Linked DNA regions of Homo sapiens: region 2 is linked to region 1. The links come from fine-mapping of genetic effects on gene expression. Tissue or cell type: whole blood. Region 1 holds a variant in brackets; the other region holds the start of a gene. All regions are shown on one strand. Distances are between the middles of the regions.

What was found. PIP is the estimated chance that this variant, and not a neighbour inherited with it, causes the effect.
Region 2: it holds the start of FAM8A1, and the variant in region 1 is fine-mapped to the expression of FAM8A1 in whole blood (INTERVAL, PIP 0.98).

What each region holds. Positions count from the first base shown.
Region 1 is chr6:17,626,101-17,628,860 of GRCh38, forward strand. It overlaps NUP153 (nucleoporin 153), which reads right to left. Exons shown (of 22, transcript NM_005124.4): 18 at 2,555-2,760; 19 at 1-64. Among named protein-coding and RNA genes, the nearest start is that of FAM8A1, 27 kb to the left of the region's middle. The variant T/C (reference allele first, on the strand shown) is at 1,259.
Region 2 is chr6:17,598,995-17,601,754 of GRCh38, forward strand. FAM8A1 (family with sequence similarity 8 member A1) reads left to right here and starts at 1,308. Exons shown (of 5, transcript NM_016255.3): 1 at 1,308-2,127. The coding sequence starts at 1,416. RefSeq lists a silencer at 1,167-1,646 and an enhancer at 2,713-2,760.

The DNA.
Region 1 (2,760 bases):
GGTGTACTTGAACTAGAGGAACTGTTGTTCAAGAAACTAAAAACTGGCTTTGCTGCACCTTGATCTGTAAGACAGAAATTAAGAAACAAACATAAATCCTTAAGAATAGTCTCAGAAAGTACTTTTTCCTACCCTACAATTGCTAGAATTTTCCTACCCTAGAATTCGCTAGAAAATAGATTTTTTATATAGATTACTTCATCAAATGGACATCTGTTTATATTAGATTTTGACAAAGTCAAATACATTCATCTTCTTTTATAGCTTATGGATTTTAGGCCTTTCATAGGAAGGCCTTTGGCATTCAGGTTAATAAAAATACACCTCGAATCCAAATCTAACTGGATACTGTAGTTGAATAGCAAGCTTAGATAGTGGAAGACAGCTGTACTTTTATATGTTTTATTTTGCAATTTATATTACAGTATGTGGCAAAATCATAACTTCAATTTATCTAAATGGATAGCCAAGTTTCTCCACAGCATCAACTAGTACAGCCTTTGTGCACTAATTTGCAATGCTGTCTTTATCACACACTACATTTCCTAAAATGCATATACTTGTTTCCTCTACTGTTATCACTAGACTGTTTTAATTATTATAACTTTATACCATGGACTGATATTAGTAGGACAAAGCTGCCTGTGTGCCTGCCCTTCTTCCCAAAATTTCTTGTGTGGTTTCCTTTCCATGTGAATTTTAGAATAAGTTTAGCTTGTCAAGCTCTACAAAAATTCCCCTAAGAACTAAAATTATGGGAGGAGGAAGGGAATACCTTCACCCAGCAACAAGTATGCCTTTTGTGTTCTTTTAGTTATTTGGCATGTTACAAGTTCTGCTGCTTTTATAAAATACAAGTTAGAAATGTTAGGAAAAACAAATGAGACATGCTGATTTGAAGAAAAACTTTTGATTTTTATATGGTGATTCTGAATCCAGCCACCTTATTGAAGATTTTTTTCTAAACTATTCCAATAATCTCTCAGTTCCAATACCGCACACTATCCAGGGCTGGTCACAGTACACTATGGGCATTAGTATGACTTACAGAAAATGGAACATGTTGGCTTACTTTCAACCTGGCTAATGGAAGAATGGTTAAGAGTGTCTACCATAGCCTGGTGTTTTCATCATCAAATCTGATTAGACCCTATCATGTTTTTGTTGCTTTCCAAATAATATGTAATTTTAGTTTTGATTTTGTCTTTATATTTCTAAGTAAATATATAACAGACAAAAAACTGCTCATAGCTATTTG[T/C]TGAATTCCATACTTTTTAAAGGTTAATTTTGAGTGTTTCCAATTTATTATTCAAAAGTATTCATGGATATTCAACTTTTGCATTTTTTGCACATCTAAAAACATCTGTATTTTGCCTTTGTGTTGGTGTTTTTTTGTTGTTGTTGGGTTTTCTTGAGACAGAGCCTTGTTCTGTTGCCCAAGCTGGAGTGCACTGGGCCAATCTCTGCTCACTGCCACCTCCGCCTCCCAGGTTCAAGAGATTCTTGTGCTTCAGCCTCCCGACTAGTTGGGATTATAGGTGTGAGCTACGGCACCCGGATTGTCTTTATATTTAAACACATTTGGCTAGTAACAGAATTCTAGGTTCAAGAACATTTTCACTTTAAGGGCACTGTTGTTTTTAGCATGTGATGTTACAAATTAGAAGATGATGCTAATCTGATACCTGCCTATTTGTGGCAAATAGCTTTTCTCTCTGAAAGCATTTGGGGTTTTAGCTTTGGTGTCCTAAATTTCAGTGATCTTTGCCAATAGGTAATTTCCATTTTTAAGACCAATGTCTTTCTTTAGATCTAGAAAATTTTCTTCTGTCACTTCTTTGATATTTCCCCAAAACTTCTTATCTTCTAGGCCACTCCTATCCCAAAGGAACTTGTGGATCTAACTTGGATCACTCTTTGTACTGGTGCACTAAGTTTGGGGAAATTCTAGTTCACTAATCTGATTATCAGCTATGAAGTTCTTCCTGCTATTCAGCTCACAGAATGACTTTAATAGGATCCACCAACAATCATGCTTTTAACCTTTAAGGTGCTATGTCATTTTTTTCCCCAGGACTTCAGCTTTCAAAATCTCTTGTTTTCTCAGGATTAATTATATTTGTTGTCTATGTTTCTTAATGTTTGATGAGGACTGGTTATCTGTAACTATTTGTAAATAAAGGCCTTCCCATAGATTATGGTAGAAAATACTTCATAAGCTAAGAATCCTTATTTTCCAGGTAGTAGATACCAATTCTGATTATAAAAGCCCAAACAGAAGAGAAAGACACACATAAATATGCACTATATTGAGCTTTGCATTACTGCTGTATTTCTCAAAATTAGATCCACAGATGACTTCACCAGAATCATGAGGGTTTTAAAGAGCAGTTCAAACTGAAAATCCTAGGTTCCTTCCCAAAGAGTTCTGTATTTCTCAACTATGTTCAGTGTAAACCATTAATTGACTTGCTGCATCTGTCAAGGCAACTTGTAAAACGACAACTTGTAAAAAAAAAAATAATAATAATAATAATAAAAAGTTAATACTTACCAGCTGTAGTACTAGTTTGAGCTCCAAAGGCAAAAGTGGCTTTTGCTGGCTGTTCAGATTCCTTCTCAGATGGTTTTGTCATACTAAAACTAAATGTGGACTTTGAAGAATTCTCATCTTTGGTTTGCTCTGAATTCCCAAAGGAAAACACTGGTTGACACTTTGGCTCTTCATTGTCAGCTTTCTTCCCAAAAACTAGGGAAGTA
Region 2 (2,760 bases), 27 kb before region 1:
GCCATTCTCCTGCCTCAGCCTCCTGAGTAGCTGGGACTACAGGCGCCCGCCACCACGCCTGGCTAATTTTTAGTATTTTTAGTAGAGACGGGGTTTCACTGTGTTAGCCAGGATGGTCTCGATCTCCTGACCTTGTGATCCGCCCGCCTCAGCCTCCCAAAGTGCTGAGATTACAGGCGTGAGCCACCGCGCCCGGCCTTGTCCAGTCATTTTTTTATACGGCTGTCCATGCTTTGTTGAACCTAAGCATACAAATACACGATTTCCCTTGTTATCTTTGGGTCTTCATTCTGAAGGCTCCCGTGTCACATAAAACGATGGTCAAATCAATGTCTATGTCTTTTCTCCTATTAACTGCCTCCTGTCAGTGACTTTCAGCGAAACTTCAGAAGGTGAAGCGGAAGTTTTCCTTTGGCCCGGACAGCATCATCATTAATATCATTAATAAATATTCCCACAGTATTTGGCCCTTGTATGTCCTTTGTATGGTGCTGGGGATACAATAACATATCGCTGCAGAGATTTTCAAATGTAAAAGAAGAGAGATTATACTGATTTAAAAGCTAGATTCTGTCCTCACCCTGGAGCTAGTCTGCATTTACGAAAACTTACTTTCCACTGCGGTAGACAGACGCTTTCTACTCCAGCGCAACTGTGCCTTTCCTCAAATCTAGTCTCAAATTTAGGTTCCTTTTCATTTTCTGTTATGGAAAGGCCCTCAGCGTATCCCAGGCTTTGGAGCCTTTTGTTAGTAGTCTGGCCCATGCATAATTTCCCCTTCCTCTGAATTATACATAGCACCTCACTAGTTATATTTTAATACACTTTCCTATGTCTCAGTGGTAGTTTCCTATATTAATATATATCCCAGTTTAGTTTGGCTTTTAATTTCTTTTCTTCTAAGGGGATAGATGCGTTCTGTACCACCTTCTCGAGTACTAATGGTTAACTGGAATGAACACAAGCAACAAACCCTCCGGCCTGGATCCCAAAACAACAGTCGCGGTTCTGCAACAGAAAAGGCTGCGCTGGCCCTGGGACCTGTCTCGGAAATACTCCTCATCCATCTAGTTTCTCCCAGGACAACTAGGCCCAACCCCACGGGAATATACAGAGAGGCCTCGGGTCACAGACTTAAAGCTGTAAAAGGGAGGAGGCGACGGTCTGGTCCCAGTCACCGACCAGCCACCGACTACTAGGGCCCGAACCCGGGACTGCAGACGCACCTCCCCGCCCTCCCTTCCCAGCTCCGCCTGGCGGCGGGCGTTGCTCCTGAGGGGCGGGGCTTCCGCTTCCGGCGGGGGATTGTTGACGCCTGCGGTTGCTGCGGTGGTGACGGGGCTGTTGGGGAGGGGCCATTGGGGGAGGGAAACGGAGCAGTGACAGGTATCCCAGAGGGTGCTGCTGAGGCGACGATGGCCGAGGGGCCCGAGGAAGCCCGAGGCCACCCTCCCGGGCAGGACGATGGCGGAGGGGACCACGAGCCCGTCCCTTCCCTGAGAGGCCCTCCTACCACCGCCGTCCCATGCCCCCGCGACGACCCCCAGGCCGAACCCCAGGCCCCGGGCCGGCCCACAGCCCCGGGCCTCGCGGCTGCCGCCGCAGCCGACAAATTGGAGCCGCCGCGCGAGCTCAGGAAGCGCGGGGAGGCGGCCTCCGGCTCCGGTGCAGAGCTGCAGGAGCAGGCGGGCTGCGAGGCGCCCGAAGCCGCGGCGCCACGAGAGAGACCAGCTCGGCTGAGCGCCCGCGAGTACTCCCGGCAAGTGCACGAGTGGCTGTGGCAGTCCTACTGCGGCTACCTCACCTGGCACAGCGGCCTGGCCGCCTTCCCAGCCTACTGCAGCCCCCAGCCCTCCCCGCAGAGCTTCCCTTCGGGCGGCGCTGCAGTCCCCCAGGCCGCGGCGCCGCCGCCCCCGCAGCTGGGCTATTACAACCCCTTCTACTTCCTGAGCCCCGGGGCCGCGGGGCCTGACCCGCGGACAGCTGCCGGCATCAGCACCCCTGCTCCAGTCGCGGGCCTGGGACCCCGGGCTCCTCACGTGCAGGCGTCGGTCCGGGCCACTCCAGTGACGAGGGTAGGATCCGCAGCCCCTTCGCGAAGCCCGAGCGAGACCGGGCGACAGGCAGGTGAGAAGCGCGAGGTGGAGGCTGGGCGGAGTAGAAGGGTTTTCGGGGGCCTGTGGGGTAGAGCTGGCACGCTTTTTAGACCTGTAACTGCTGCTTCTACTCTGATTGACTATCCTGCCCGTTCAGTTCACTAGCTATCGTTTGTCCAGGCCCTAAATTCCCAAAATGTACAAGGAGGCAATACAGTTTCTTCTTCCTTTAGACCTGGCACTCCAAATTGACTCCCTTACTCATGGGACTAGTTGTTTATTCGTGAAAAGAAATTGCTCTTCAAACCATCCTCTTCCTTTGGTTTTCACGCTCTGCAGTGAGGGCCAAAGCTAAATTCGCAAATGGCAAACCCACTTTTGGAGGGGCTCGACTGGTAATGCTGAAAATTATTCAGACATTGGCTACTTAGGACAGTGGAACTGAACGGATATAAAAGGAGATCGACATGGATACAAGTGGAGTTAGGAAGTTTTGATTGGGTCAAAGCTTCACTTCATTTGATCAATATCTTGTATATTGTGTAATTGTTTTTGCTTCTGTGTGTGAACTAGAATATTTTGAATTAGTTACACTTCTTAGTTTACTATTTAAACTATTAGACTTTTAGTTTATTTTAGTTAGCCACAGATAGATGGGACAAGA